Linked DNA regions of Homo sapiens. The protein of the gene in region 2 purifies or fractionates together with the protein of the main gene of each other region. This does not show direct contact. Each region holds a gene or a part of one and is shown on either strand. Other genes may lie near its edges.

What was found.
Region 1: the proteins of KCNC4 (region 2) and DNAJB4 purify together in Homo sapiens (affinity purification with mass spectrometry; 2 studies listed by BioGRID and IntAct, with this or other methods). This does not show direct contact.
Region 3: the proteins of KCNC4 (region 2) and RNF215 purify together in Homo sapiens (affinity purification with mass spectrometry; 2 studies listed by BioGRID and IntAct, with this or other methods). This does not show direct contact.
Region 4: the proteins of KCNC4 (region 2) and NUS1 purify together in Homo sapiens (affinity purification with mass spectrometry; 2 studies listed by BioGRID and IntAct, with this or other methods). This does not show direct contact.

Annotation. Positions count from the first base shown.
Region 1 is NC_000001.11:78,014,939-78,018,464, forward strand, and holds the end of DNAJB4 (dnaJ homolog subfamily B member 4), read left to right. Parts: intron 1-1,075; coding exon 1,076-1,309; 3' UTR 1,310-3,026; downstream 3,027-3,526. UniProt on the Homo sapiens protein: Probable chaperone. Stimulates ATP hydrolysis and the folding of unfolded proteins mediated by HSPA1A/B (in vitro).
Region 2 is NC_000001.11:110,205,890-110,213,339, reverse strand, and holds the start of KCNC4 (voltage-gated potassium channel KCNC4), read right to left. Parts: upstream 3,027-7,450; 5' UTR 1,841-3,026; coding exon 1,163-1,840; intron 1-1,162. UniProt on the Homo sapiens protein: Voltage-gated potassium channel that opens in response to the voltage difference across the membrane, forming a potassium-selective channel through which potassium ions pass in accordance with their electrochemical gradient.
Region 3 is NC_000022.11:30,384,385-30,391,247, forward strand, and holds the start of RNF215 (RING finger protein 215 precursor), read right to left. Parts: upstream 3,028-6,863; 5' UTR 2,930-3,027; coding exon 2,645-2,929; intron 2,376-2,644; coding exon 2,232-2,375; intron 1,758-2,231; coding exon 1,686-1,757; intron 1,606-1,685; coding exon 1,520-1,605; intron 112-1,519; coding exon 1-111.
Region 4 is NC_000006.12:117,671,142-117,678,470, reverse strand, and holds the start of NUS1 (dehydrodolichyl diphosphate synthase complex subunit NUS1), read right to left. Parts: upstream 3,003-7,329; 5' UTR 2,801-3,002; coding exon 2,386-2,800; intron 1-2,385. UniProt on the Homo sapiens protein: With DHDDS, forms the dehydrodolichyl diphosphate synthase (DDS) complex, an essential component of the dolichol monophosphate (Dol-P) biosynthetic machinery.

The DNA.
Region 1 (3,526 bases), about 32 Mb from region 2:
CTCTATGGAACACTATTGTTTCTTACCCTGCTCTAATACCTACCTGCTACTGCCCAATGCTTAGTTCAAGCATCCTCTACTCCCGGAATCTAAGGGGTTAAGTTGGGTGCTCTTTCTCTTACAAAAGACCTCCATGCTTACCTCTGTTCTTACACTATACAGTATTATAATGGCTAGTTTGCTTCTATGTTTCTGTGAGTTCCTTGTGCATTCCTTGAGCTGGGGTCTGTGTTCATGGTCCCTATAAGGCTCACCATCTAGCCAGAATGTGTGGCATATAGTAAATGCTCAGTAAACATTTGTTATCTAAAACAAATATATTTCTTGTCCTAATACTTTCCAGAGAAATAGTTGCTCCTATCCAGTTCTTTCTAGTCCTGAATTTCTCCCTCTTCTCCCATTCCAATCCCTGCATCTTGAATATATTAATAGCAGCTTCAAAATAACCATGTCATTCCAGGGCAATGTGGAATATATCCTTTACTTCTCTTTTACCTTTTCTTTTCTTCTTCTTTTTTTTTTTTTTTTGTAACATATCTAATAATGCATGTCCTGAAGGAATTTTCCTTTTTTTCTTTTCTTTTCTTTTTCTTTTTCTTTCTTTCTTTCTTCTTTTTTTTTTTTTTTTTTGAGACAGTTTTGCTCTTGTTGCCCAGGCTGGAGTGCAATGGCACGATCTCGGCTCACTGCAACCTCCGCCTGCTGAGTTCAAGTGATTCTCCTGCCTCAGCTTCCCGAGTAGCTGGGATTACAGGCATGTGCCACCACGCTCGCCTAATTTTGTATTTTTAGTAGAGACAAGATTTCTCCATGTTGGTGAGGCTGGTCTTGAACTCCTGACCTCAGGTGATCTGCCCGCCTTGGCCTCCCAAAATGTTGAGATTACAGGTGTGAGCCACCGTGCCTGACCTCTGAAGGAATTTTCTAATGAGGAAAAAAAATTTATAACTATTGTTATTCTTTTGGAGGTTAAAGTTTTACCTTAGTGGTATTATCCTTTACCATCTGGTAAAATTTGTGCTTAGATTTTTGAGTTTTGAAGTGTTTTCATTTTATTTTATTTGGTCCATTTTAGGCATTGTGTGGCTGCTCAATTAATGTACCAACACTGGATGGAAGAAACATACCTATGTCAGTAAATGATATTGTGAAACCCGGAATGAGGAGAAGAATTATTGGATATGGGCTGCCATTTCCAAAAAATCCTGACCAACGTGGTGACCTTCTAATAGAATTTGAGGTGTCCTTCCCAGATACTATATCTTCTTCATCCAAAGAAGTACTTAGGAAACATCTTCCTGCCTCATAGAATGAAGAACTTTGTTACACATATTTTGATAAGGCACTGAAAATATAAAAGGACTGGTAGTTTACTGATGTAGATGTGAATTCTGTATAAAGATGTGTAAATTCTTTTGAGGGTTCATTAAATTGCATGAATAGAGACGGGTCAAATAAATAGGCAAAAGGGATTTTTACAGTTAGAGATAAAAGAGAAAACCATTCACTGTATTTTATTTCATTTCTCCTGATTCAGATATTTTTAGTAATTTGCTTATATGTAAAAGTTGTTTTTGTGGAGTCAGTGGATATATTTCTAATGAAGTGCTAGACTATCCAATTACTTAATTTCTTATACCTTTAGATAATCAGTATGAAAAGTTCCCATTTATAATGGAAATGAAAATTCTTAACTAAACTATACATGTAATATGTATTTCTAGAAGAGAATAAAAACCCAAGTCAGTTATTAGATTTAAATCACCTTCTGAAATGCTGCTATAGGGCTGGTATCTGTAAAAGAATATCCTGATGCATCTGTTTCACCATTTTGATTTTTAAAGTATGCTGTAGCATTTCTTAATAACATCGTTGTGATGTTCTTAAGGCAGATCTTTCTTCATAAAAAGGAAAGTAATGGCAATTTCTCTCCTGTGGAAATCCCAATTGCTTGAATTACTGATATTTTAGAATAGACTTTTTAAAATGCCATATGTAATTTTATGCAAGTTGACTATATATCTTGTACTTAATAAATTATAGGCTCATTTTGTTCTCTGCTAGTTTAAAGTAATTCGTTTAATAATAGATGTGTTTTTAGAGGAAATGCTGTTACTTGGAATTAATTTTCCAGTTATACAGTCTTCTATAACTTACTAATAATATTCTATATGTACTTTATGTAATTTCCCTAAAAAGAATGAACTACCACTACACTATGGTGTTAAACCAAAATATAGGGAAAATAAACACTAACTGCTGCTTATGGATAATGTTGCAACTACTTGTTATGCATATAAATATTTTACTTTTTCACATGTATAGATTGCATTTCTTAGGTGTTTTAATTTTTTAAATATATTTATGTTTTAAAAATTTAGTTTTGTTTTCTGTTTTATAACTATAGTGAGAATGATGTTTTGAAGCAAAATTTTTGGTTATAAAATAGTTTTCAGGATTATATATATATATACTGGATCCTATCGCCTTTTAGTAGAATATGAAATATTCTTTTAGAAATCCAATATAAATAGGTTATAATAGCCATATTCTTTATTACTTTATTGAGATATAATTTACATGCCATAAAGTTTACCCTTAAAATATATAATTCAGTGGTTTTTAGTGATATTTACAAAGTGGTACAATCATCATCACTTTCTAATTCCAGAATATTTTCATCACCCCAAAAAGAAATCCTAAATCCATTAGCAGTTACTTCCCATTCTTCCCTTCCTCCAGCCCCTGAAAACACTACCATCTACTTTTCATCTGTATGGATTTGTCTGTTCTGGACATTTCACATAAATAGACTCAAACAATATATGGCTTTTTTTTTTTTTGGTCTGGCCTCTTTCATTTAGCTTAATGTTTTCAAGGTTCATCTATGTTGTATCACGTATCAGTACTTTATTTTTTGTGTGGCACGTCATATGGATATACCACAATTTGTTTATCTTTTCATTAATTATGGGCATTTGGCTTATTTCTACTTTTTTGGCTATTATAAATAATGCTGCTGTGAACATTTGTGTGCAAGTTTTTGTGTTTCAATTCTCATGGGTATATACCTAAAAGTGGAATTTCTGGGAGTAACCATATATTTGAGTTGCAAATGGAAAATGCTTGAAAAAAATGCCACAGAATTCAGCTAATCGTATTTATTACTCTAATTCATAAATGATTCCTCTATAACTGTCTCTCTGAATGACAGTTAAAACTCCCTACAGAAGTGTGAACATTACAGAAATTTTCTCACAAGTCTAAAGATCTAGATCTGAAAAGCATCAGTCAACGTGGTGAATGATAGTGGTTTCTGTTTTAAACCCATCATTATTTATTGCAATTTTCTTGATTAAGCATTTTCTCCCAGGTAAAATAAATGATTTATAGATAGATATATAATAATCTTTGGATTAAAAAGTTTTTTTAAGCAGAGAATTATTATTCTAGTAGTAAATAAATTTACATAACTACACAAAACCAGTATACCAGTATCTCTCTTATCTTAAAGGATATTGACAAT
Region 2 (7,450 bases):
AGTCCCCAGACCCAACAAGTTACATTGCTCTTTCCTGTCTCCCAGACAGACTCCAGCCAGGCTTTAGGCTGCTGACCATGAGATCCGACACCAGCCCCCAGAGTTTTCTTTCTTTAAAGAATCTAAAGCCATCCTTCAGGGATTTTTTTTTTTTTTTTTTTTTTTTTTTAGCTGTCGAAGCATAATGGGGGAAGCACCTCCCCCGTTCTCCCCTTTCACCTAAAGGAGTTAGGGAAACTGGATTTACTTGGGGAGGAGGCGGTAGGTCTTGCCTAAATCAACCTGTGCTTCCCCCTTCCCTCATACACCCATTTCAAGCAGTAACCTGAACCAGGGCTTTCTGGAAAGACAGTTTGTGCTGCAGCAGAAAGAAAAGAAGCGGCAACAAAAATCTGGTATCATCACCAGGAAGCCTGTGGCTGGCCACTGGCCGTGGGAGCCTGCAGAGCCTAGAACGCTAGGCCCTTCGTGTTTAATTCTCCTCTCACCCCAGCTGAGGCCAGGACATCCCAGGTGTGCAGGAAGCCTCAGGGGCATGGTATCCTCCCTGGCAGAAAGAATGCCTTTCTTAAACCTGGAAAGGAGGCCGGATTGTGGTCTCAGCTTTGCCTCTTCTGAGCTTAAGATGCTGAAGCCTATATCCTCCTCTCTGAAGTGCATAGTTGTGAGCACACTGAGCTGCTGGGAGGATGTAAATGAGGTGGCACGGCATGGAAGCATCTAACAAAACCCACCCTAGTTTCCTTCCTCTCAACCCTGCCTGCCCCCATCAGAAGACCAAATTCCAGCTCTTCCAGGACCGTAGTCCTGTGTGGAGTGGAGGGCAGCTGAAGATAGGGCAGCCTGTGCAGACCAAAGAAGGGGGTGGAGGAGCTGAGCTGGGCACCCCACTCACTGGAGGGGATGCGGCAAAGCAGGCAGCTGGGACTGGGTCCAAGTAGTAAGTCAAGTGTGTGCAATCTCCTGATGGAGCGTGCAGGGGAGAGGGTGGGAGTGTGTAATTCCCCTGCGAGCCACGGAGGGGGGTTGAGAGGAAGGCGGGAACAATCTGCGGTGGTAAGGTAAGTCAGGCTCGGTCCCTGCTCCTCCCGGCCCCTACCCACCACCCACCACGGACCCCTTGCAGACCCAAGATGGGGAGACACGGGCTCCTGCCACTCACCCTAGCGGCCCGGGAGGAGTAGGGATCCTCGAAGAGCGCCCACATGCGGGGCTGCCAGCCGCGGCAGCCCCCAGACCCGGCGCCATGGCCCGCGCCTCCCTCGTGGGGGCCCAGTCGCTGCAGGGCCAGCTCCCGCTCATCGTCGCCGGCCTCGTCGCTGGGCCCCGCGCCGCTGCCGCCTCCGTCCGGGCTCTCGAAGATGTCGAGCGCCTCCTCGGCGTCGCGGTGCTGCCGGTAGGTCATCCAGCAGCAGGGTTCCACGTCGGTCTCGTCGATGCCCCAGAAGGTGAGCTCCTCTTCGAAGAGCGGCCCGCACACGTCCGCGGGGCAGTGCAGCTTGCCGGTGCGGTAGTAGTTGAGCACGTAGGCGAAGACGCCCGGGTGCCTGTCGAAGAAGAACTCGCAGCCCCCGCCGCCGCTGCTGCCGCTGCTACCCACACCGCCGCCATCGGTCTCGGGCCGGCCCCCGCCGTCGGGGTCGGCCAGCCAGGCGAGGCGGGTTCCCGGTAGGGTGCGCAGGGTGCTGCGGTAGGTCTCATGTCGCGTGCCGCCCACGTTGATGATGATCTTCTCCGACGCCTCGCCCTTGGCCATCTCCTCCTTCAGACATGTTTTGGACGGAGGCTTGTTCCCCGACTTGCGCCCGCGGTAGGAGGAGACACACACCGAGCTGATCATAAGAAGCGCTGCGGGGCTCCGGCTTGGGGCGGCCGCTGCCCTCCAAACACCCTTCCCGAGGAGGCAGCGTCAGACGGGGGAGGGGGAGGAGACGAAGAGGAGGCAGGAGGCGGTGGCGGCCCCCTCTGCGGCTTGGGCTTGCCCCTGCCTATCCCCCTAGGACGCGGAGCGGGAGGAGTTGGATTTCTCCGGTACACAGGTGGTTGGGGTTAGGGCAGGAAGCTCCGGAGAGAGGGAGGCGCAGAGAGGGAGGACCCGGGGAAGTAGAAGCAAGCACACACGCGGTCCCCCGCTACGACGGGACACACAAACGCTCTGGGCCGGGGACACGCCCCCGCCTTCACCCCGACCAAAGACGAGGAAGCGCACAGTCCACGCGCACCGCGAAGGTCCGGGGCGCTCGCGCTCACACGGGCCACCCTCCGGCTCCAAGACCGCACCAAGCCCCGGAATAGCCGGCTTCCCCGCAGCGGCGGCAGCGCAGCAGCAACAAGTCCTCCGAGCGGCTGCCGGGGCCAGGCCGACACTCTCACGGCAGCCGGAGCTCCGTGGGCCCGGGCTGCTTGCGGTCAACACGAGGCGGCGGCGGCGGCATGTGGCCTCTTCCCCCCATTCATAAATCCAGCGCCGGGCGAGGAAGGCAGGCGGGGCAGAGCAGAGAGCGGCGGCCGGGCGGGCGGGGGCTGCGCAGGGCGAGGCGGCAGCTGGAAAACAAGCGCGCCCGCAGGAGCGAGCCTCGGGTCCTGCGTCCGCGGCTGGGAGCTGCGCCGGACCGGGCGCAGCGCTGCGGGGGCCGCGCTGGGGCGGGGGTGCCTCAGACGGGGCGTCCTGCGCGGCGCCGAGCCTGGGGGGCGGGGCCGCTCTGGGGAGCCGGGCTCTGGGCACTGGCGAAGGTGTACCGGGGGCGGCGGCCGAGCGGCCAAGGACACCTGCAGGCTTCCCGGGCCGCGCGGAGAGGGAGCCTCAGCGCAACGCCCCGGCGCCTGGTTCCTGCGATCTGGCGGCGCTGGGAGCCACGCCATCTACGCGTCTGCCCATCTCCGGGCGGGGCGCCGGCCTTGGCTCGCGCGCGGCAGGGGGCGGGCGCGAGGTGGCATAGGGGAGGGGGCGCCTCGGCGCCGGTGGGCTGGGGCCCTAGGGGCTCATGGTCTCCCTCCGGCGCTGGCAGCGGCCGCCACGCCCCAGTGGCGCCTTTTCCTCCGGGGCCCCGCCTCGCCCAGACGCGCCCTTCGCGGGGCGGGGTGGGCGGGGCGCGGCGCAGCGCGGGGCCGATCCGACTCACTGCAGGCCCTGGCGACCGAGCGCAGTCTTCCTCCCCGGAGCCGAGCCCCAACCAAGCGCGTCACCTCCTCGCCGCCAGTGCCCAGCCCAGCGCGCCGCCCCTGCGCGCTTCCGCCGGCAACCCCTCCCGCCCCCCTCAGCCCTGCTCCGCGCCTCCCCCGGGCCCGCAGCTCCTCCCACCGCAGCCCGCTGACACCGAAGCGCTCTCGACCCCTGACCTCTAACCTCCGCCCGGCTCTTCTTGCTTCGTCCCTCGCCCCCTCCCCGCCAAGCTGGTCGCACTGTTGCCGTTTCACTGCGGCTGACGGAAGGCCAAGGAAGAAAGAGGGTAGAGACGCTGTCGCGAGGATCAGGCTGCCCTCTCCTTTCCCAGGGACCGTGTTGGGGCCTTCTGACCACCCCGCCCCGCATCCTGCGCCTCGGAGGCCCAACGTAGCCCAAGACACCCATGGTCTTGATGCTCTCCGCCTCTGTCCCAGCCACCAAAGTCCCCGCGATGGAATGGAGGACGGGGTGGCCTTGGGCAGAGAAGCGCTTCTTGTGCCGGATGGAAGGAAACCGTAGCTCTGGCTGTGTTCATCGCGAAATGTTTTATGGATGTGGAGTGGGTGGGTGGCCCTGAAAAGTCATTAGTTAAAGCCTTTGCTCGTCATTGCTCTGGGGTCCACATAGGAAATGCCCGTGTCCTGCCTCATGACCCCTTCCTGTTTCTACTCTTATTCTACCCATTACAATTTGACTTTGCCTGTGTATATGTCTCCTCTCCCCTCCCTAACCCTGAGCTCCTGCAGGCGGCATTGTGCTTTTTCATCTTGATAGCTCCCACAGTGCCTGCCTCTGAGAACCTGTTTGCTAAGTGATTGAGAAGCTGCCATACCCAAAACGTAGGCACCAACAGGACTTTACTGGCCCTATCCCAAGAGCAATTTCCAGATTCATTTGTTTTTGTTAAGTCCAGAACCTATTTTACATCTTCATATTAATCCCCATTGGGTTTTTTTTTCTTTTTTACAGCTTCAGGCAGCCTCCATGCCTGTCTGGATGATGTAAAGAGATCTTGAGGCAGAAATGAAAGGTGAATGACACACCTGCCCTGGACACCTGTGCACCTTCCCAGTTCCAGATCAGGCAGTACCTAGCTCAACTGAGAAAAACAAGACAAGGGCCTATGTGTGTCTCAGGAAAGGTTAAAAGCTCAGTGCCAATGCAAGGGATTTTTACAAGCAAAAGTCTCATTATTAATGAGGCCAGAAAACCAAAATGACAATGATCTTTGATGATCTGTACTGACACGCAGGGGAGGTGAGTTAATCAGAAACACACATTTACTGGCACCCCCTTTGTGCCCAGTCCCTGCTCCTCGAAACTGATGTTTGTATTTCAGAGTTTAGCTGTCTTTGAGTTTGCTGCAGTGAAAAGAAATATCCCAAGTGTGACTGGGAAGAGAAGACCCGGGACAGGCCAGAAACTGGAGTGAGGAAGAAAGAACCACAGAATATTAATGTAATGAATAACTTTCAAGTCCTATCTGGTCCGTGTCCTGGCAAAGTCCCTTGGGGTCTCTCCCCTGCTTTCCGTTCATCAGGATGACTGAGCTCAGTAATTGTAACAAAGGGAGTGTAGTAGGCAAGGGGACAAAACCCATAGTATCCCACCCCTGATTGACTTATTAACTCAATGAACACTTATTGAATACCTACGATATGCCAGAAGCAGTTCCGGGTACTGGAAATACATCAGTGAATAAAACAGCCACTCATCCTAGTAAATCTGCCCAACTGGTGCTTCCACTCTGCGGTGCTTGTGGATAGTGATGAGCACCTGGGGAGATGGGTAAAGGGAGAAAGCTGCCAGGGAAAAAGGAGGCCAAGAGGGAAGGGAGGAAGATCAGAAAGTTGGGACACAGGCATAGGAACCTAGGAAGAGCTGACAAAAACAGAGGGCCCAGCCTGAGAGAGGCAGCTGGGTAAAGGTGCATGGGGCCAGGACTCCCAGCTCTGTGCACTGACCAGCTCGGGAGAGGGGAGCTCAGCCTCAGTCCTGAGGCCTCCAGAGAATGCCTCACCCTTGCTGAAGGTTTATTCTAGAACTCTGGGCTCACCTGTTACGTGTACCTCTCTGAGGGAGTCGATATGCTGCAGTTAGCACTATGGGACTTGTCCCCATCATTTCTTTGTGTGAGGTCTTGGTGTTCCCTCAAAACACAGAGCCGGGGAAGGATAGGAGAGCCCCCTGCCCAGGCTACTGTGACACAGCCTACCATGGATGTGAGGGTGCTGCCCTCTGGTGGTGCTAGAACATCCTGGCTCCAGACCTCGCCCTGAGCTCTGGGGGCTGTGATGTGGGCAGATGGGGTGGCAGCTGATTCTGGGCTTCCTGTTGATTCCAGGACCTCAGGTACATCTTCTAGCCTAACTCTGCCATTGGGACTCTGCCTACTCCCTCCCTTCTTCATTCCTCCAAGACCTTGATACCTGACAGGCTTAAGCAAGACCACAAAGCAGCCACTATTGGAAATTCCTAGTTCCCCAAGCTTCTTTCCCTCATTTTCACCTTTTCTCTTTTGTCCTCTCCTTAGTGCCCTGGCTTCTTCAGGCTGTCAGGGAAGAGCACCTGTCTGAAAGCCAGTTCACAGAAGGTGTCAGCCACAGCGGGTTTCCCTCATCAGGGGTGAGGGTGTGGTGAAAGAATAGGAAGAGAGGGCCATGGGAGATTCTAAAGGGGCACCGATGGAGGCTGTCAAGCACCTGCACCCTTTCCAGGCCCCCCCTCCACCCGCATAATAAGGTCCTCACCCTCTGAGTGCCGACGCTGACCCTGTCCGTAGGAAGCTGAAAGCCTGAAATCAAAGCCGTTTACCCTTCCCCTTTCCCCACTGGGAGCTTTGTATGGGCTCAGCCTCTTTAGGATGACTGGAGCCATCCAATCTCCTCTCCATCTTCCTTCTTTGAAACCTGTTTGTGGTGAGGGGCTCCAGGCCAAGGCAAGGTTCTATCCATTGGTGCTCACACTTTCCCTTTTTGGTATTCTAGCTCCTGCCAGGGACTGACCCTCCTTCAGGTCCAGGCCAAGGAGCCAGCATCCTTTCCCAGCATGCCTCACTCTCTCCCAGCCTGGAAAATTGAATTGCTTTATCAGACTCATTAGAGGGTGATAGGGCCTCCCCGCTCATGGGGGAACAAGAGAAGGGAAGGCAAGAGCAGGCTGGCAGCCTCCTGTCTGCGTCTCAGCTCACTTCATCCTGCCTCCCCCAACCCCAAGCAGCCTGCAGAGACTTGCAGGCTCCAAATCAAATGTGAGAGCCTTCTTTGGGGGGAGGGGGGTTGGTGGGGGAGGGGCTCTGGGGAGAACCTAGCCCTAGTAATTCAGGTCTTGTGAAGATCAGTAGAATGGCTCTGCCTCAGGACTGAAAGCAGGGTTGGGTTGCTGTGGTAATCCCAGTGAAGTTGTATCTGGGGCTCAAAGGTGGCCTTTGAAGGCCCAGCTCTTAAAGAGAAGAGATCAGAAGCTCGGGCCTGGGCAGGGCTCAGGGCCTCATACACTATGGACCTGGAGTCATAGGGTTGGAGGGGACCTGAGTGTTAGCTCATGGACACCTTCCCCCCGCTTAGGGATGTCAGGCCTAAGCAGCAGCAGCGAACTCTGAGAGACGGAGCTAGGGCTGGTGTTGGGCCAAGGACAGAGAACGATACGGGGGCCACCAGCTGAGTGGACCCTAGAGGCCTCCTTGTTTAAGGCTCCTGGGCTGGGAACTCAGCCTGCATCCAGACAGCACACTCCCGCCACCGCGCCTGCCACATGCACGCTAGCCCAGGGTCCGGCTGGCAAGACCTCTTGACACTTAGCATTTCTCCATCTAGAAAAGTAGAGATTGCTCCCACCTGGGCTAAGTTCCAGGAAAAACTGGTTCATTCCATTAGAGGAGTTAATTAGTCCTGATGGGCCCAGTCCCCTCCAGCAATATCCTGGGGAAAGGGGAAGCAGGTGTCTGGAGAGACAGGCCAAACTCAGGTTCCTCTTGGGTGCTCCTGAAGTCCAGGGATTCTTCCCTGCTTGGGTCAGCCCTGGGCAGAATGGAGGGACCCAGAACCCAGGCAGCTCAGACCCAGGGACAGAGAGCAGATCCCCACTGAGTCTTTATGCTCTGCAGCCAGGACTGTGCCTGGCATGGATCAATCTTTGTAAGGGTTTGTGGTTGAATGACAGGCATAGTCTTCTCCCATCTCAAGGTTTCTTCCCACCTAAGATGATGTAATTAAAGAATGCAGCAGCGTGCCTGGCACCAGTGAGTGTGCCAGGAAGGGAGATGCCCAAGTCAGATTGTGACTG
Region 3 (6,863 bases), on a different chromosome or scaffold from region 2:
CCTCCATAGCCATCCTTGGAGAGGCCACAGGTGGTCCACAAGGTCAACTTCCACTCGATATTGGCAGACAGGGACTCTCCGCTGGTGATCTCAGCCGTGGCCTGGGTCCTCCTGGGAGGGGAAGTCACCGGGGCCAGATGGAAGGACTCTTGGGAAGGGAGGCCCAGACCCACCCACCCCAGCTCTGCAGGAAAAGGATACCTACGACTGTCGCCCCTGCTGGCCTTACACTTTGCCCCAGGCCTTTTCCCTCTATTGGTTTTTCCAATTTTCACACCAGCCAGGCCAGGGAAGCCTGCAAGTCCATCTTCCTCCTTGCTGGGGCCAGTCCTCTCTGCCCACAGAGCCACTTCCTTGCTCCAAGCTCCAGGCTCTGGCACCTCCTTCCCATCCCCTCACCCATTTTTCAGCCTGGGACAGGACAGTCTTTCTTTTTTTTTTTTTTGAGACAGGGTCTCCCTTTGTCACCCAGACTGGAGTGCAGTGGCACAGTCACAGCTCACTGCAGCCTCTACCCCCGGGGCTCAAGTGATCTTCCCACTTCAGCCTCCTGATTAGCTGGGACTACAGGCATGTGCCACCATGCCCAGCTAATTTTTGTATTTTTTTGTAGAGACTGAGTCTTGCCATGTTGCCCAGGCTGGTCTCAAACTCCTGGACTCAAGTGATACTCCTTCTTTGGCTTACCAAAGTGCTGGGATTACAGGCATGAGCCACCATTCCCAGCCGAGAGGGCAGTCTTAAAGCTAACAGTTGGCTGGGTACGGTGGCTCACACCTGTAATCCCAGCACTTTGGGAGGCCGAGACGAGTAGATCACAAGGTCAGCAGATCGAGACCATCCTGGCTAACATGGTGAAACCCCGTCTCTACTAAAAATACAAAAAAATTAGCCGGGCATGGTGGTGGGCACCTGTAGTCCCAGCTACTTGGGAGGCTGAGGTGGGAGAATGGCATGAACCCGGGAGGCAGAGCTTGCAGAGAGCCGAGATCGCGCCACTGCACTCCAGCCTGGGTGACAGAGCGAAACTCCATCTCAAAAAAAAAAAAAAAAAAAAGTTAACAGTTAGGCCGGGCCCTGCCAGGCCCAGCCACAGTGGCAGCAGGGGCAGCAGCAGCAGCAGTGGCAACGGGGGCTCCTGCCTGTAATCCCAGCACTTTGGGAGGCCGAGGCAGGTGGAACTGAGGTCAGGTGTTCAAGACCAGCCTGGCCAACATGGTGAAACCCTGTCTCTACTAAAAATACAAAAAATTAGCTGGGTGTGGTGGCACATGACTGTGATCCTAGCTACTTGGGAGACTGAGGCAGGAGAATCACTTGAACCTGGAAGGCAGAGGTTCCAGTGAGCCGAGATTGCGCCACTGCACTCCAGCCTGGGCAACACGAGTGATACTCCATCTCAAAAAAAAAAAAAAAGGCTAACAGGTAAGGCCCTGGTCCCAAGCCCCCTCAGTCCATGGGAGAACCAGGGGCTCTCTGTACCCAGGGTCAGTCCTTTGAAGTCTAAATACCAACTCACTGCAGCAATGCATCCAACAGCTTGGTGACATTGGAGGAATAATGGAGGACGATCACTGGCCTGAGCAGAAGCTGGGATATGTCCAGCTGCAGGGAGACAAGGAGGTCAGCAGGCCTGGGTCCCCCTTTCCCCAGCTTGCTTACCCTCACGGCCTGGTCCGATTTACCTCTCGGACCACGTTGTGGTTCAGGATGAGAAGAAGCAGGGCAGAGGCACCCAGGAAGAGGGCCCGCCGCATCTGCAGAGGGATAGAAGGCGAGAGGCTAGCATATACCCTGCCTGCACACCTGTCTCACCACCTGCAGCCCTAGCTGCTCTTAGCTCCTGGCCCTGCAGTGAGCAAAACTCTGGACAGACTGCCATAAGCTCCTTGAGGTCAAAGGTGGAAACTGCTTTCTTCCTCCTGCCTCCCTTCCAGATGCGCTGTGCCTTCCCCGGTCCTATCAGGGCAGTCCCAGCAGTGGTCGTCAGCAGCAGCTCCCCCATCCCATACTCTCAGAGCCTGGTCAAGCTTCTCAACCTCTCTCTGGCCTCCTCTCACCTCCCTGCTTCGAAGCCATACTGACTCCATTCTTCAAACTGGGGTGCCCTGACCCACCAGGCCTAGGGCTTCTCTGCAAGCTCTTAAGGGCCCATCTAAGGAGGGCCTGGCTCTAGCAGATGCCTTGGAATCCTTTCCTCCAGCCCCCTCCCCCATAGACATCCCCTGCACCTGCTGGACCAGGGCCTTGGGATAGGCCTGCGGGCCACTGCCCTTATTCTCCTGGTGGAACTGGGCCGCCTGCTCCTTGCCCACGTATGCCACTGCAATCCAGCCTTCCACTGGTGCCTCCTGCTCGGCATCCACGATGTCCATCTGTGTGGCAAGGGGCCATGAGCAGAGGGAGGTAGGGTGTGGTGGGGGAGGGAGCCGGGGTCATCACAGTGGATGCCAAGGCCAGAGTTCCCAGAGCATCTGGCTCTCTGGTTTGGGAAGCCGGAATGCTGGGGGCCTGGGGAGCCTGGGGAGGGGCGCTGGACTCTCAAGGCTTGGTGGAGGATGAACGTCGGTTCAGGGTGCGGGGTCTCTAGGGAGGGTTGAGAGAGGGGTTTAGTGATGCGGCCAGATGGCTCAGCAGCGCTCACCAGCAGCAGACGACCGCCCAGCAGGGGCGCCGGGTCGGCTTCGGAGCCGATCCTGACGCCCTCCAGGACCAGAGCGTCCTGGCGCGGCAGTCTCACGTCCACCCGCACGGCGCGGGCTCCGCCCCGCCCCGCCCCGGCCGCCGGCTCGCTGCCGTCCGCCGCGGCCCCGGGCCCCGCCAGGCCCAGCCACAGCGGCAGCAGGGGCAGCAGCAGCAGCAGCGGAGACGGAGGCGGCGGCGGAGGCGGCGGCGGCGATCTCAGCGCGGGGCGAGCGGCGGGGCCCATGGCCGGACCCGGCGAGCTGGCCCAACAGTGGGGCCAGGGGTCCCGGGCGCGGGGGGGATCGGAGGGAGCGAGGCCGCTGCCGGACGGGGCGGGGCGCCGGGAGGGGCGGGGCCGCGGCCGGACGGGGCGGGGCACCAGGAGGAACGGAGTGGGCGCTTGGCGGCTCTCGCGCCCAGACTGGGCCGCGGGCGCCCCCTGGTGGCCGCGGAGAGCTCAGGTGCCCGCGGCTGAGGGAGCTGGAGAGGGGCAAAACCGGGGTCGCAGCGGGAAGGCGGAAAGTCAGAGAGAGGAGGTGCTTCGGCAGCGGACGCGTCAGCGGGGCAGACAGGAAAATAGTTGGAAAGGGCGACCTGGGGGAGCAGAGACACGATCAGAGCCTGAGAAGGGCAGGAGCAAGGGATGTCTAAGGGGCCTGGTGGCAGGCCCTTGTTCTGCGGCAGCCCCGTGGACCCACGGGGTGGCCAGGGCCAAGTCACATCCCTCTCTTCCCCGGTCCTCCCTGTCTCGACCCCACTAAACAGCAGGAGGCAGAGAACCAGAGACTGGCGTGGGAAGCCGACAGGGGAGATAGAGGGGCAGGGGAAAGGGGCTGGGGGGCAAGGCAAAACGAAGCAGGCAGGGACTCAGTGCCTCAGTGGGACCGAGAGGCTGGGTCACTTCCCTCATCTGTGAAATGGGCACCATAGGCCGGGCGCGGTGGCTCACGCCTGTAATCCCAGCACTTTGGGAGGCCGAGGCGGGCGGATCACCTGAGGTCGGGAGTTCGAGACCCGCCTGACCAACATGGAGAAACCCCGTCTCTACTAAAAATACAAAATTAGCCGGGCGTGGTGGCGCATGCCTGTAATTCCAGCTACTCAGGAGGCTGAGGCAGGAGAATCGCTTGAACCCGGGAGGCGGAGGTTGCGGCGAGCCGAGATCGCGCCATTGGAATCCAGCCTGGGCGACAAGAGTGAAACTCCGTCTCTAAATAAATAAATAAATAAATAAGCACCATGTACAATCAACACTGCCTCACCCCCAGCAAATAACTCAAATGTCTACTGGAATGTGGAAGTTCCACTACTGTTCTAAAACTTGTCCGTTTCTCCAAGGGTTGGGGCTGCTGGGAGCTGGCTCAGTCTGAAACCTGAGCCTTTAAAAATTGTATGGTGGGCAGGGCGCGGTGGGTCACGCCTGTAATCCCAGCACTTTGGGAGGCTGAGGCAGGCGGATCATGAGGTTAGCAGATCGAAACCATCGTGGCTAACAAGGTGAAACCCCGTCTCTACTAAAAATGCAAAAAAATAGCCGGGCATGTTGGGAGGCGCCTGTAGTCCCAGCTACTCGGGAGGCTGAGGCAGCAGAATGGCGTGAACCCGGGAGGCGGAGCTTGCAGTGACCTGAGATGGTGCCACTGCACTCCAACCTGGGCCAGATGAGCCACAACACTCTTTTTTCTCCAGAAAAATTGAAAGAATTTTACAGTGAACACCTGTAGGAACACTGATATGGGATGACCAAGTTGCTCCTGAAGAAGTGTGAGACGGGTATATAAGACAGCCCCCGATATCAGCCTAAAGACAGACAAATGGAACATGAAATAGGCCAGAAACTGACCCACACATCTAAAGATGGTGTACATCAGAGGAAACATTGTGTTTGTGGAGATACAAGGAGGCAGTAGCATGGACTGTTTGGTAAATTGTGCTAAGAAATTGAATTAACCATTAGGAGAAGAAATTAGACCCCTATTACATACACATCATATACAAAATATGAATTCCATATAGATTAAAGACCTAAATAAGAAAAGTAAAAGTTTAAGCATTAAAAAATTATTTATGCATTTATTTTTGAGACAGGGTCTCTCTCTGTTGCCCAGGCTGGAATGCAATGGTGCCTTCTCAGCTCATTGCAACCTCCAGGGTCAACTGATTCTCCCACCTCAGCCTCCAAAGTAGCTGAGACCACAGGGGTGTGTCACCATGCCCAGCTAATTTTTTTTTTTTTTTTTTTTTTTTTTGTAGAGACAGGGTTTCACCATGTTGCCCACGCTGGTCTTGAACTCCTGGGCTCAAGGGAACTGCCTGCCTCAGCCTCCCAAAGTGCTGGGCTTACAGGCAATAGCCACTGCACGTAGCTAGATTCTCTGTTCTGTTCCATTGGTCTATAGTAGTCTCCCCTTACCTGAGGTTTTAGTTACCTTCAGCCAACCGAGGTCCAAAAAAATATTAAATGGAAAATTCCAGAAATAAACAGTTCATAAGTTTTAAATTGCATGCTGTTCTGAGTAGCATGATGAAATCTCTTGCCCTTCCTCTCCATCCCTCCCTGGATATGAATCCTCCCCACGCTGTAAATGTTACCACCTGTTAGTCACTTAGTAGGCCTCAGAGTTATCAGATTGAAGAAACACAGTATGTTTTCAGCACTACCTGAGGTTTCCGGCATCCACTGAGGATCTTGGAATGTATCGCCCAAGGATAAAGGATCACTAATTGGATATGTTACTAACGTTTTTTCATATGTGGGAAAGCACTCTTCATAAGCTACAAAATGCACTGTGGAAGCCCCGTGGTGCCCGTGAAGAGGCTTGCTTCTCCATTTCTGTGACTGTCCCAGCCCATCTGTCAGCCCCAACAACAGGGTTGCAAGGATGCACCCTGTAATCAGCCAGGTCTTTGGCTCCATGTTCTGCCTGCCCTGTCCCCACTTTCTCCCTACCCTTCACCCCACTGACCTAGTCACCCCTCAACATACACACTCCAACCAGATGCAGGTCCTTGTTCACGCTTGTCCCCCACCTAGAACACAGTTCTGCTTCCCTACAAATATCCACATCCTAGCCTTCCATCAGTGGGAGCCGGAGCCCCCTTGCAAACTTGGTGGGTAACCAGTTCCCTGTGGTGTGTTCTTCCATGGGGTAACCCCTGGTTATCGCAGAAGGAACAAGAGCTGGAGGATGTTACCTCAACGTGGGTGGGTGTAGCTCAGCCCAGCCAGGGGCCTTCTGCTGCTTTGGGGTGAGGAGGGTTAGGGGGTGGGTAAAGAAACAGTAAAGATTGGAGCCAATGCTGGCGGGGGGCAGAGTGCAGTGTAAGCCCAGGAAGTGAGGCAGCCAAGGGTGGGAGATTGACTGCAAGGAGACGAGTGACCTTGAGGCCCTGCCTGGGAGTGGAGTATCTGAGGAGAAGGGGACTGGAGGACCCCAGAAGCGGGGGAAGGGATGCCAGCTAAGAGACATGCAGGCACCCTGCTCCCAGGGATGGACAACAGGACCCTCAGCCCTGTGGGCTCTCTCTGGAGTAGCCCAACCCGCAGATCCAAACTCCCAAGAGAGGGTGGGGAGCTAGAGCGGACAGGACTGTCACTCTCTCACCATGGGCCTCTGGGCAAGCCACTTCCGTTTTCTTGGCCTGTGTCCTCAGTTGTAAAATGGGAGCTTGGACTAAATGACTTGGGAGGGCCTTTCATCAGACATGCTGTGATTCCAAGTAGCTTGTTTCTTGGGATACAAGGTTTCCTGGCCCTGGGCTGGGCAGAGACCTGCATGGAGAAGGCCCCAATTCCTCTGTCTCTCCTTATTCTGTAAAGTTGCAGGGGGACCTAGGAAGAAACAAAGCTACTAATGAAAGTGTGAGGCATGGAATATGTTACCTCAGCAGTGGAAGGGGGTGGTGATGAGGATGAAATGTTTTAGAATTGGTACCAGGAATGGGGTGTATGACAAGGCCCTTGAATTCCGTGAACCTGAGCCCTCTGCTTCTCTTCCTTTGCTGTGAAATGAGTTATTTGGTCACACACCAGGCTGTGCAAATGCCAAAAAAAAGGCATTCCGTGAGTACACAGATGGTGGTGCTGGCAGAAGGATGAAGGGCAGGGAAGGCAAATCCACATCTAGAATATGTGTCTATTCCAGTGAGCATGAACCTGGGCCCCACCTATGAGGAAG
Region 4 (7,329 bases), on a different chromosome or scaffold from region 2:
ATTACCACATATTTACCCACGTATATTATTTGTCAGACTCCCACTGAAATCTAAGTTCCATGAGTACACTGCTGCATTCCCATGTCTGGAAGAGTATCTGGTACTTAACAGACCCCAACTGTCACCTGTAAATGAATGTATGAACGAATCAAAACCAAGAATGGACTAATTGAAGGTCTCTTATTTCAGGAATATTTCTTATTCTTTTAAAAAAAACAAACAAAAAAACTGATTTTACAGTTAAGATACAAAATCCTGTAAGCCCTTTCACTGAAAATGCTCCTTAAGGTGCCTTTCAGTTCTCAGCCAAAACTTGGCTTAGCTTACTTCTTCCTTTTAATTACTAATCATTTTTCTTTTAGCAACTATGACACAGGATACTTCTGAATCACATCAGCAATTTAAACACAGGACTTGCAGAAACAAGGAAATGTGGCAACATTATAGTCTGTACTAGTAGGCACGGTCATCAAGTCAAACAATTTAGCTATACATTTTCCTTCCCTACTGGAAGATAAAGATACTTGCTTTAAAAGAATCACCTGGCTGTACATCAATCCACCACGTTGCTTAATGCCTTTATGTCCACTTTTGCTTCACCTATTTTTTTCCCCAAGCAAAACTGGTTGCATTGGTTTAGGCATGGATTGTGTCATCTCCTAACAGTCTCATGATTTCTATTGGTCTGCTGAGTTCTTTAGCAAGTTCCATAAATGTCAGTCTCTGAATATATCAAACTTTACCCTATAGGGCAAATCATCATTTGGTGATGACAGGCTACTGCGTCATCATGTTCCTTGCGGGCTGCAGGAAAGATGATAGGGCAATCAGAGATCAGCCTGTAAGCGTTACTGTCTGGCCTATGCCTTCCCTTTCTGACAAAACCCTGCACTTAAATTTACCAATCTGACAAAGATGTATGCCTCTCTAGAGCACACAGGTAATTTATTGAACAGAGAATAAAACTTTTGTTTTCTTCCCTTCATACCAATACTCTTAAATCATTCTTCTCACATCTTTAAAGAAATTCCAATGCTTTCAAGATCTGATTGAAAATCAAACCTGACATCCCAAACCTGAGTATTCCTCAACTTATCTCCTACCTATTCTTCAAGGTCCTGCTTAAATCCCACCTCCACTGCATGAACTTCTCAAGTTCCTTCATTCACAATTTCTCTCCTCTCTTCTCACAATAGTAATTTTACTCTCAACACTTCTTGTTATTAACCATGTCAAATATGTGAGTGTGTGCCTACCTCCTAACAAGCCTGAGAGTCCATGGAATTAAATGCAAGATTCCAAGGAATATGCCTAGCACAGTGCTTTAGGTTTGTAGCTACCCAATAAGTACTGAATTTTTGTACTTACAAAAACTCCCTATGGTGAAATTCATTCCCTCAATCAAAACATATGAGAGGACAATTCTATCAAGTACTGTGTTGGGCACTGATGATGAAGGATCACAAACCATCCCAGCCTTCCAAGACAGAAAGGGACCATTTTCTTTTCTGCCTATCCAATCTCTCACATATTTTTCATAAACCCAGTTCAAATACCACCTGACCCCCACCGCTCCCATTTGCAGTACCTATCACACAGCCCATGCCTAAGTCCTCTATAGCCTCACTGCGACTTAAGAACAGCGCCTGGAAGCTCTCTTAAAGAAACAGTGTGGTGTAACCAAAGGCAAAGATTGTGAAAAAGCACAGAATGGCTAAAATTCCAATATCCTCATTCCGATCTTTGTGGCCCCATTACGATCTTGTGGCCTTGGGCAAATCAGTTAATGTTTTTAAACCTTGGCAAGGGTATACAAATACCATCTACATTACTGCAGTATTATAACGAATAAGAGATTTTTTATTTATTTTTATTTATTTATTTACTTATTTGAGACAGAGTTTCGCTCTTGTTGCCCAGGCTGGAGTGCAGTGGCGCGATCTCGGCTCACCACAACCTCCGCCTCCCGGGTTCCAGCGATTCTCCTGCCTCAGCCTCCCTAGTAGCTGGGATTACAGGCATATGCCACCACGCCCGACTAAACTTGTATTTTTAGTAGAAACGGGGTTTCTCCATGTTAGTCAGGCTGGTCTCGAACTCCCGACCTCAGGTGATCCGTCCGCCTCGGCCTCCCAAAGTGCTGGGATTACAGGCATGAGCCACCGCGCCCGGCCAAGGGATATTTTTAAAATGTTAAAAAGCTACTGAGTCAAATCCAGAGAATTAGTAGGTGTTCAATAAAGCTGATCTCCCTTCCTCGAAAGCGCTAGCGCTGTGATTTGCAGAGAGGCCGCGGCAACTCGTGCCATGGGCACCACCCGCCAGACCAGCGGTCTAGCGGTCCAAGACGCCTCGGCCACCCCCCACCACCGCACCGGGCCTCACCTTGGTGGTCGTAGACGCTAATGTAGGAGATGCCCACGGCCATACACCACACCACGAGGCTCGCGATGTCCGAGAAGCTGGGTTCCTGCTCCACCTCGGTGATCACCAGGCCCATATGCACAGGCAGCTTCTCCAAGGAACGACCGTCCGCGCGCCAGCGCATCCGGTGGTGTGCGGCTGCCAGGCACGACCCCCCGCGCGGGTGCCGGTGGTGACGGCGGTTCCTGCCGACTGCCGGGGGCTTGCGGAGCGTGAAGCCGAGCGGCGCTAGGACCGCGGCAGAGGCGGCGCGGCAGCAGCGCCGCCAGATCCAGTTCCAGGTGCCGAACCGAACGCGGAGCCAGGAGGTGAGCGTGCGGTGCAGACAGAGCAGCGCGTGCAGCACCCGCCACACCAGCTCGTACAGCCCCGTCATACTCTTGTGGCCCTCAGACACCCCCTCTCCCTCCCGCCCACTCCCGCAGCGCGACGGCTTTTTATCCGCCCCTGCGGCCGGCGCGGGCCATCGCTCCGCGTCCCCCCGCCCCCCGAGCCCGAACCCCTTTCCACTGCCAACACCTCACCTCGCCCCCGCCGCCATCTTCCTCCTCCCTTGGCAGCCCCGCCCCCAGTAGTACATGGACAGTTCCGATTGGCCAGCGTGGAATTCTGACGCGGCTTCTGGGTCCGAGAACGTGGCCCGTTCCGGCGCAGTGAGGGAAGGCGCACGCCTGCGAACTAGCCGGGCCGATACCGCGGGCGCCCCCTGGTCGCGTGGAGGGCGATGAGCGAACGACCCGGGACTTGTCTGAATGGGACCCCAGCAAGGCACACGTGGTCTTCAATGCGATGGGCGCTTCCAGGGGACCCGGCGTCCCTTGGGTCCAGGAAGTCTTATACTGTCTCCTCTCACGGCCCCGACAGAAACGGTTTCTGAGGAGTAGAAGTGTCCTAAGTGGATTGGAAATTACAAATGCCGGAAAGAACCTAGGGATGGAAAGCAGCCCTCAGTAAGTGTTGATGCTGGGAATCCACCAGGGTTTCCAAAAGTGTCCTCAAAGGCTGGAGTGATCCTGCTACTGTCCTTTATTCAGCCTCCCGGCTGAGGCTGGGAGCGAGGCTCTTTAGCCATGTTCCTGAAACACCCCTCTACCCATGTCATTCTCATCTAAGGTATCCTTTCCTGGCTGTACATTGCTTAATAGAGGCTCTACAGCTTGGCAGTCCAGTCACTTAATTCTTTTTTTTTTTTTTTTTTTTTATTCGGCAAGACTTTGACCAACCGCCGTGGGTTAGGTTTACAGTGGGGAAAAAAAATAGAAATTGTGCCTGACTTCAATGACCGCCACTATTTGAAGCAAACTGCCCATCCAAGCCTTATCATCCCCTTTAACACCCTAATGTTTCTGTCCATGTGGACTTCGACGTGGTCCTCTAGAATGGTTTTGTACTTCCCCGCGGTAAGTCTGTACTGTCTTTGCCCTTTTTGTTCAAGCTCTTCTCCTGAATTCCTGATTCCCGACTTGGTATTGCCGACATTCCAACCCATTTCTCAAGGTTTATCCTACATGCTACATCCTCTATCATCATATATATGTGTGTGTGCAACAATAATATTTATATTATTTGCATTTATATTTATATAAGTATATATATAAAGATTAGGGAGGTATTACAAAAATGCAACTGTACACATACACACGTATACACACATATTTACACACGTGTGTGTGTGTAAACAGTTGCGTTTTTGTAATACCTACCTATTCTTTGTTCGCTAAAGCCTCTTTTTCCCCCTGGGAAACATCTGTTCACGTCTTGGCTATGTGACTTAATTTTTCTAACATTGTCACTTTTTCAACTAGTCTCATTTTGGTTTCTAAGACTCATTTAACTTTACTTTAAAAGTTGAATCTCATGTCCATCTCCCTTTCGCAGTGCAATTTTCCTCCCTTTGGCAGTGCAGCCTGAAGAACTGAGGGCTGGGCACCAGGCACACCCTTCACACACTTCTTTCTCTCCAGGTCTCCTCTGCGGTAGCTCCTCTGATGATGGACAAAGAAGGAGAGGCGAAAGGCCATGATCAGGGAAGCCTACAGTCTTCTTCCTCACTGCCCATTGCTGTAGTTTATGCAGCTACATGATGCTTGTTAAGGAAGCTCCCTAGACACCAGTGTCCCATTGAGATTTGGCCACGTATTCTGCAGACCCCACCCCACCCCCCATGCCGACTATGTTGCCACATTTCTCTACCGTACTCATTTCTTTGCCCCAATGTCTATCCGTTCTGACAAGATTAAAGACATCAATCTCATGTTCCCGTGGCCTGCTCTCAGGTGTGCAGGCACAAACAGGCTCTATCTTCTGTATTTCTTTTTTCCTTTTTTTTTGAAACGGAGTCTCGCTCAGTCGCCCAGGCTGGAGGGCAGTGGTGCGATCTCAGCTCACTGCAGGCTCCGCCTCCCGGGTTCACGCCGTTCTCCTGCCTCAGCCTCCCGAATAGCTGGGACTACAGGTGCCCGCCACTACGCCCGGCTAATTTTTTGTGTGTTTTTAGTAGAGGCGGGGTTTCACCATGTTGGTCTTGAACTCCTGACCTCAGGTGATCCGCCCGCCTTGGCCTCCCAAAGTGCTGGGATTACAGGCGTGAGCCACTGCGTCCGGCCCCTGTATTTCTTTGAATTGCAAACTTAAGCAAAAGGATTCTAGCCACATGTCCATCTGACACACTCACATGCAGATCCTGGCGTCTCTCCCCAGACATTTGCTTGCTTTCCTCCTAGAGTTTCCTCCTAGTAGCAGGTCCCCTAGCTCCCAGGATGTTCAGCCTCCTAAAGAGTGGTGGGGCGGCGGTACCCACTTTTCTTCTCTGTCAGCTGTCAGTAGGCTAGGGATGGAGGGTCTCATACAGAACAGTTCTCTGGGGGCCTTGAACCAACACAGTTCTTCCCCTTTTCTCACTTGTAGTTCTCGAGAATAACTGTAGAATGTGTTGGAATGCAATATACTATAGACAAGGAGGAACTGACCAGAACAGCCCAGGCTCTGTTCCAGTCTCTTCTAGAAATAGGATGTCCTTCAACTAGTACTAGCCCAGCACATCCCATTGCCCTGTAGTAAAAACTGAGAGCAGACTGCTTTCTGGGGTCCCTTAGTTGCGGTGCAAGCAGTGCACGAGCAGATGAGACGCCATCCTCCCTAAGAAGTTTTCCTCGGCCTTGGGAGATATGGTCATTATGACATGCTTCTGTTGTCCCTTGCTGCCTGTCTGTAAGTAATAAACCCACTTCGTGTAACTTGTGTGTGAGTGTTCTGCGTCACTGGACACTGGATATAGGAAAAGTGCAGTCCAAAATGCAGTGGGCTGAACCGGTAACCAGTGCACAGTGAACCTGCTTTGCATCTGGTGGTTGCTGTCAACTTCAGGCTGCTTCACTGTTCTTAGAAGGAGGTGGACTCAGTGCCTTTTGTTCTCAGCCACAATTCTGGAATAACAGGAAAGCCACACTGGATGTCTTGCTCTGGACATACTTGGAATCTTAAGTTTATGGAGTTCTCTCTCTTCTAAAGATTTTCTTCTTTTGTCATTTCAAAAAAGCAGTAAATGTGGCACATTTAGGAACTTAGGGGTTCTGAATATAATGTTTGGATTTCTTAAATACCATTTAACCTTCCACCCCAAAATTTTATGAAGCACAGGAAAATACAGAAAGAGTTATCCAGCCTCAGACTCTTAAGCCCAAAACACTATGGGGATGGTATTTCATTTACTTTTCAGTTTACAAAATGCTTTACATTATCTTAATCCTTACGACCACTGCTACTTTTACTGTCTCCATAGTTTTACCTTTTCCAGAATGTTACACAGTTGGAATCACACAGTATGTAGCCTTTTCTTATTGCCTTATGTCACTTACTAATATGCATTTAAGCTTGTCCATGTCTTTTCATGATTTCATACCTCATTTCTTTTTAGTGCTGAATAATATCCCATTGCTGGATGTACCACATTCCATTGCTGATGTACCACAGAATTTATCTGTTCACCTACTGAAGGACAACTTGGTGGCTTCCAAGTTTTAGCAATTATAAATAAAACTGCTATAAATATCAATGTGCAGGTTTTGTGTAGATATAGGTTTTCAACTTATTTGGATAAGTACCAAGGAGAAGGCCAGGCATGGCTGACTCCTATAATCCCAGCACTTTGGGAGGCCAAAGCAGACTGAGCGCTTGAGCTCAGGAATTTGAGACCAGCCTGGGCAACATGGTGAAAACCTGACTCTACCAAAAATACAAAAAATTAGCTGGGCATGGTGGCATGTGCCTGTGGTCCCAGCTACTTGGGAGGCTGAGGTGGGAGGATTGCTTGAGCCCGGGAGGTTGAGGTTGCAGTGAGCTGAGATCACACCACTGGATTCCTGCCTCGGTGACAGAGTGAGACCCCATCTCTGAAAAAAAAAGAAAAAAAATACCAAGGACCACAATTGCTGAATCATACAGCGAGAGTGTGTTCAGTTTTGCAAGAAACTGCCAAAATGTCTTCCAAAGTGTCTATACTATTTTGCATTTCCACCAGCAACAAATGAGTTCATATTGTTCCACATCCTTGCCAGCATTTTGTGTTGTTAGTGTTTTGGATTTCAGTTGTAGTGTTTTGAATTTTGGCTGTTCTAATAGGCGTATAGCAGTATTTCATTGTTTGAATTTGCAATTCCCTAATGATTTATGATGTTGGTATCTTTCTGTATGCTTATTTGCCATCTGTCCATCTTCTTTGTTGAGGTGTCTGTTCATTTCTGTTAAAACCCCATTTTAAAATGAGGTCGTTTGTTTTCTCATTGTTGAGTTTTAAGAGTTCTTTGTACATTTTGGATAATAGTCCTTTATCAGATATGTCTTTTGCAAGTATTTTCTCCCAGTCTGTGGCTGGTCTTCTCATTCTCTTGGCAGTATCTTTTGCAG